Homo sapiens: one gene and its partner. The protein of the gene in region 2 interacts with the protein of the main gene of each other region in a pairwise test. Each region holds a gene or a part of one and is shown on either strand. Other genes may lie near its edges.

Region 1 (3,500 bases), on a different chromosome or scaffold from region 2:
TTTGAGATGGAATTTCACTCTTGTTGCCCAGGCCTGAGTGCAATGGTGCGATCCCGGCTCACGGCAACCTCCGCCTCCTAGGTTCAAGTGATTCTCCTGCCTCAGCCTCCCAAGTAGCTGGGATTACAGGCATGTGCCACCACGCTTAATTTTGTATTTTTAGTAGGGACGGAGTTTCTCCATGTTGGTCAGGCTCCATGTTGGCCAACCTCTCGTGATCCACCCACCTCGGCCTCCCAAAGTGTTGGGATTACAGATATGAGCCACCGCACCTGGCCCGACCTTGCTGATTTTTTTTAAGCTTTCTCTCTGCAGTGTTCCAGCCACACTGCACTGTGTTTCAGTTCCTCGAATATGCTCTCTCACTCCAGGCCTTTGCCCAGAACAGTCATTCTTGCTTATCTCCTGACCTTGTTGACTTCTACTCATCCTGCAAGTCTTAGCTAAAGGACTACGGACTCCATTTAGGTCATCTTGTATGCTCATGTAGCACCCTATGCTTCCCTATTGAAATGCTCATCACATCTGTAATATACGTGTTTAATTTTCTGTCTTCTTAGCTACACTTGAAAGTTCCTTAAGTTACATCTGCCACACTCACTGCTATATTACCAATTCCTAGAACTGTGGTGCATAGTAGGGAGCCAACAAATATTTGTAGAATGAGTGGAATAAATGAAACTTTCAGAAGACTCAGGAAGTGATTTTTAGAGATAGACTGAAAAAAGAACGTTGATGATAATCATATTAAAGCAGACTCTTTTTTGCTATAGTTAATAATGTATTCATTGATTTATAGTAATTTTGTTAAGCCATGTTAAATAGTAATTTTAAGACTGCTTAAACATTATTTCCCTTGACTACTTTGCACTACTAGGTCAACTAGATCTCTTTGGTTTCTTCTAGTCCCTCCAAACAGGATTTGTGGGTAGAATTATATATAATCTAATGTAAATCAGTACGGTATTCTTCAACTGGGGTTATTTTGATATACTGTGAAGCTAGTGTATTTAATACATGACCATTGTTAACCTTAATGGTCCTGCCAAAAAAAAATTAGACTTGTGGCAAAAGCCTAAATTTGTATCTCTATGCTTTATCTTTCTCTGAACCTTCCTTTTCCTCACCAATAATTTCACATTATTATATTATAAAAATAAAACATAAGTACATCATTTCTTTATTATGACATAAAATAAATTTCTGGTACTTTTTCTTTCCCACATCAAATGAAAGAGCTCGTTTTATGCATATAAGGGACCAAAGGTAGTTGGTAGATATTGATTCTTCCTTGATACATGTTGCTCCCTTAATCTATAGCAAACTACATAGCTTTGGCAGTTTTGACATTTTTTTTGACTACTTAGTTGGTTTTAATTCCTAGGAATAGGAGAGATAATTGTTAATACATGGGTGCTGCTAAAACTTACTTGTCATTCCAAAAGCTTCAGCAACATCACTTATTTATTTGTTTATTTATTTATTTTTAGACAGAGTCTCACTCACTCTGTTGCCCAGGTTAGAGTGCAGTGGCTCAATCTCTCCTCACTGCAACTTCTGCCTCCTGGGCTCAAGTGATTCTTCTGCCTCAGCCTCCCAAGTAGCTGGGATTACTGGCGTGTGCCACCATGCCTGGCTAATTTTTTATATTTTTAGTAGAGATGGGGTTTCACCATTTTGACCAGGCTAGTCTCAAACTCCTGACCTCAAGTGATCTGCCGGCCTTGCCCCAAAGGGCTGGTATTACAGGCGTGAGCCACGACGCCCAGCCCTTCAGCAACATTACTTTTAATACAATAGAAATTTTAGATTATTCTGCCCATCCCCCTCACTTTTGTGACCAAGAAAGCACTGTTTACAGGTCCAGGATGTACTGTTTAAAGGTTAACAAAAGGAACTTACAGAGTCCTGCAAAAACAAAAAACAAAAGAACCATGAAATTGGAGAACTCAAAACTCCTATTCCACCAAACCAACCACAAATGATTTTTTAAAAAAACTTAAACAGGGTGGAGTGCTTGAGGTCAGGAGTTCAACAGCAGCTTGGCCAATATGGTGAAACCCCACCTCTACTAAAAATACAAACATTAGCTGGGCGTGGTGGCACCCGCCTGTAGTCCCAGCTACTCGGGAGGCTGAGGCAAGAGAATCACTTGAACCCGGGAGGTGGAGGTTGCAGTGAGCTGAGATCGCGCCATTGCACTCCAGCCTGGGTGACACAGCGCAACTCTGTCTCCAAAAAAAAAAAAAAAAAAAAAACTGTCAAACAGCTCTCATATATCTGAAGTTGGCTAGAATGACAGAAAAGAGCACCATCAAACTGGGAATCTTGTAAACTATCACTGTGCCCCAGATGTTACAAAAATGAGCAAGAGGAAATAAAATCTAACGAGAGCTTGTTGCAGATAATCAGGAAATAACTGTTTATACAGATCAACTTTGGAGACTACCTGTTCCACTCGGAAACAGGTAAAGCCTGTTAAGTCTAGCCGGTCGTGGTGGCGGGCGCCTGTAGTCCCAGCTACTTGGGAGGCTGAGGCAGGAGAATGGCGTGAACCTGGGAGGCGGAGCTTGCAGTGAGCCGAGATCACGCCACTGCACTCCAGCCTGGGCGACACAGCGAGACTCTGTCTCAAAAAAAAAAAAAAAGAGAAAGCCTATAAGTCTGTACTCCAAACAGAATTGAATATACTCAAATAAGCATTTGAGGGTATAAAAATGTTTACCTTGGCTTAGAATTTTTAAAACTATTAATAAGAATGGAAATGATGACTAAAGGAGAAATGAAAAAAGAGTTGATGAAACAAAGGGAAGAAATGGAAGAAAAAGACAATTACCTCATAAGTGAATAAATTGTAAGATACCTAAGGGAAAATAGACTGAAATGAAAGCAAGAGGCAATGAAGAAAGGCATAAAAACAACGAAGAGAATTGAAAATGACAAAGAAAAAAGTAAGATGAATCCGAGAAAGTAGGGAATGGTAGGTAGATAGGCAAAGACATAATATTCATATTATCAGAGTCCCTGAAGAAGAAAAAGAAATGGAACATAATTCATGTTTAAAAACATAATCCAGCAAAAGTTTCCAGAAATTGAAAAAAAAACTAAATCTAGAAAGGGTTCCCTAGGTACCTGGAAAAATTAACCCAGACTTATTGACTTTTGGGATATATTTTAGTACAACTATTAGATTTCAGAGATAAAGATGAAATCATCAAGTCTTCTGTGCAAAAAGAACATATAACTTACAAAGGCAAACTTACAAAAAGCATCACATGTTGAAAAACTGACATACAAAGCAAGGCAACATAGAGCAGTGTTTTTTTTTAAAGCTCAATGAAGGTGTGAATTGAAGGATTTTATATCTAACTGAATGTTCTCAAATGTCAAGGTTATAGAAAAAGAGTTTTCGACATAACGAAAACCTGGGTAATTTCTGTACCTGCTGGCCATTTCTGAGGAATATACAAGAGAATGAGCTTTATCCAACCAATTGATGA
Region 2 (3,500 bases):
TTACAATCCTCTGGCTAGACAGAAAAGTTCTCCAAGTCCCCACCCAACCCAGAAACCCAGCTGGCTTCACCTCTCACCTACTCGGAACAACTCAAAGTTGATATCTCAAGGGTTTAATATTTCCTGAATGATGATTCATCACACCACTTTCTCTCTCTCTCTTCTTTTTTTTTTGAGATGGAGTCTTCCTCTGTCTCCCAGGCTGGAGTGCAGTGGCGCCATCTCGGCTCACTGCAACCTTCGCCTCCCGCATTCAAGAGATTCTCGTGCCTCAGCCTCCTGAGTAGCTGGGATTACAGGTGCGTGCCACCACGCCCAGCTAATTGTTTTTTTTTTTTGTATTTTTAGTAGAGATGGGGTTTCACCATATTGGCCAGGCTGGTCTCGAACGCCTGACCTCTTGATCCACCTGCCTCAGCCTCCCAAAATGCTGGGATTACAGGCGTGAGCCACCACGCCCCGCCCACCACTTTCTCTTAATTCAGTTTTCCACAGTAAGCTGATTTGAGAAATAACGTCAAACTCGGGAAAGCAGATCAAGCATGAAAATAAAGACAGATGTCTGGAGATTCAGTGGGTACAATACTATATCATTTCAATCAATTTGGATCAAACTGAATTCCAACTCTCTTATGACTGAGATACCCTGAAATAAAAATTACAAAAGAGATGCCAAGTGGGAATTAGCTTTCCTACTACCTCTTCCTCAGTGTTTTTGTTTTGTTTTGTTTTGTTTTTTGAGACAGCGTCTTGCTCTGTCGCCAGGCTGGAGTGCAGTGGCGCCATCTCAGCTCACTGCAACCTCTGCCTCCCAGGTTCAAGCGATTCCCCTGCCTCAGCCTCCCAAGTAGCTGGGATTACAGGTGCACACCACCACACCTGGCTAATTTTTTGTATTTTAGTAAAGACAGGGTTTCACCATGTTGGCCAGAATGGTCTCGATCTCCTGACCTCGTGATCTGCCCTCCTCGGCCTCCCAAAGTGCTGGGATTACAGGCTTGAGCCACCACACCCGGCCTCTTCCTCAGTTTTAATCAAGTCCACTTAGATTACTACATTAGGGAACTGGGACTAATAATGGGAAAATAAAATTAAAGAACTAGGTAGATGTTTATCACCATCCATAGTTGTGGACCTACACAGGCTTTTTAAAAAACATAACTATGCCTTATACTGGAAAGTAGGGAGAAAAAAGTAAGGTAGCAAAACACTATGTTACCACTTAGGTTAAAAAGTGTGTGTCTGTGAGGGACTACTTGTATATTCACTAAATATCTTTTGAAGGATATGAGAGAAACTGGGGACAAAAGTCACTTCTAGTGAGAGGATATGTGTGGCTAGGGGGTGAAGGGAGAAGACTTTTCCCTTTTGGGCCTTTTGAATTTTGTATAATGTGCAAGTATGTTTTAACTTAATTATAATGTATTAGAGTATTATATACATATTTTCTTAAATGGCTATAAAACACCTGAATCTTTGGGAAGACTTAGGACTTCTTACGCCTAGAAGTAGATGGTTATGATTATTCTAGCATGTTTTGGTGAATTCGCCAAATTCCAATTTACTTTCCCTGTTAGAATAACCCAGTATTTTCTGGAAATATTCAACAGGGAGGAAAAAATACTTGATTCTGTTTTAATTGTCTTCTTGGACTCAGAAATGGAAAATATATATACAACTGGCCCTCTGTATCCGTGGGTTCAGCATCTGTGGATTCAATCAATTCCCAATCAAAACTATTTAGAAAAAAAATACATCTCTACTGAATATGTAGACTTATTTTTCTCATCACTATTCCCCCAATAATACAGTATAACAACTATTTACATAGCATTTACATTGTACTAGATATTACAAATAATTTAGAAATTATTTAAGGTGTATGGGAGGATGTGCAAAGGTTATGTGGAAATACTACACCACTTTATATCAGGGATTTGAGCATCCTCGGATTGTGATATCATTGGGAGGTCCTGGAACCAATCGCCCATAGATAATGAGGGATGAATGTATACATACATAAAACATTGTCACTTTAAGGATCATTTTTGACCCTTGTTTGCCTACTAAAGGTATTTCTGATACTTTCAAAACCAATAGACTCTCTACATATGAGAGGATATACCAATAAAGTAGTATTCAACTCTCAAAATGATGAGCTAATATAAATTAATTAAAAAACTCTATCTTCATTATTTGGACTAATGTCACCACCCTACGACACTTGTGCCTAATTTCTACAGTACCAGAAGTCAACAGGGTTAAGTATACCCTAAGCCTTGGAAAAAAGGGTAGATCATCCTTTAAGAATTAACAAAAATGATACTAGAGACATTCAAAATCTTTTTATAACAACGGTTCTTAAACCTTTATGTTCCAAAACTTGTGAGGATTATATTACATCCCCAACAGTTACAGTGGTTGGGCACCACCATATCTCCTAGGCTGAAATCAGAACGTATATTAAGGTTTGAAAATGCCTCCTCTCTCAGGGAACACTTTCTTCTCCAACAGAAGAATCACTTGCAGGCTCAAGAAAATATGACTCCTGTGTCCAAGACTTAACTATAACAAAAATTAACATATTAACTTTCATTTAAGAATAAAATCTCGGCCAGGCGCGGTGGTTCACGCCTGTAATCTCAGCACTTTGGGAGGCCTAGGTGGGCGGATTGCCTGAGGTCCGGAGTTCGAGACCAGCCTGGCTAATACGGTGAAAACCCATCTCTACTAAAAATACAAAAATTAGCTGGGCATGGTGGCAGGCACCTGTAATCCCAGCCACTGGGGAGGCTGAGGCAGAAGAATTGCTTGAGCCCGGAAGGCGGAGGTTGCAGTAAGCCAAGATCACGCCATTGCACTCCAGCCTGGGCGACAGCAAGACTCTGTCTCAAAAAAAATAAAAATAAATAAATAAAATCTCTCATCATACTGTTTCACCTAAACTCTGGATTCAAATCTCCAACTGCCTACTAGCCAGCTCCACATGGATATCCAATAGTCATCTATTCTTGAACTTAACATATTAAAAATAGAACCCTTAATATCCCCCCTCTCAAATCTGCTCCTCCCAACAGTCCCTAACTCAGTAAACGGAACCATCCTCCTTCCAATTTCTCAAGCCTGAAATAAAGGATTCATCCTTGATTTCTTTTTTCCTTAATAACCTACATCCAATTTGTTGACTTTGCCTTTATAATATATTCCCAAGCTGTCCGTTTCTTTCCATTTCCATTACCACCATTCTAGACCAAACCACCAACTCCTTTAGACTATATAATAGCTTCCTAAATGCTTCAGCCACACTGGCCTTCTGTCCTTCAACATTTCAAACTTATTTCCATTTTGTGGCTGAGCCATTCTTTCTGCTTAAAATATTCCTCCCACACACTCACCACCCAATCAAGAATAACCCCACCCTCACTTACAATCATTCTCTATAGCAGTACCCTGTATTTTTCCCCCACCACATTTATCACCATCTGGAAATTAGCTTATGC

What was found. The genes of interacting proteins can lie anywhere in the genome.
Region 1: the proteins of KATNBL1 (region 2) and SNAPC3 interact in a two-hybrid assay, tested with the Homo sapiens proteins (one large-scale study listed by BioGRID and IntAct).

What each region holds. Positions count from the first base shown.
Region 1 is NC_000009.12:15,425,876-15,429,375, forward strand, and holds part of SNAPC3 (snRNA-activating protein complex subunit 3), read left to right. Parts: intron 1-3,500.
Region 2 is NC_000015.10:34,200,097-34,203,596, forward strand, and holds part of KATNBL1 (KATNB1-like protein 1), read right to left. Parts: intron 1-3,500.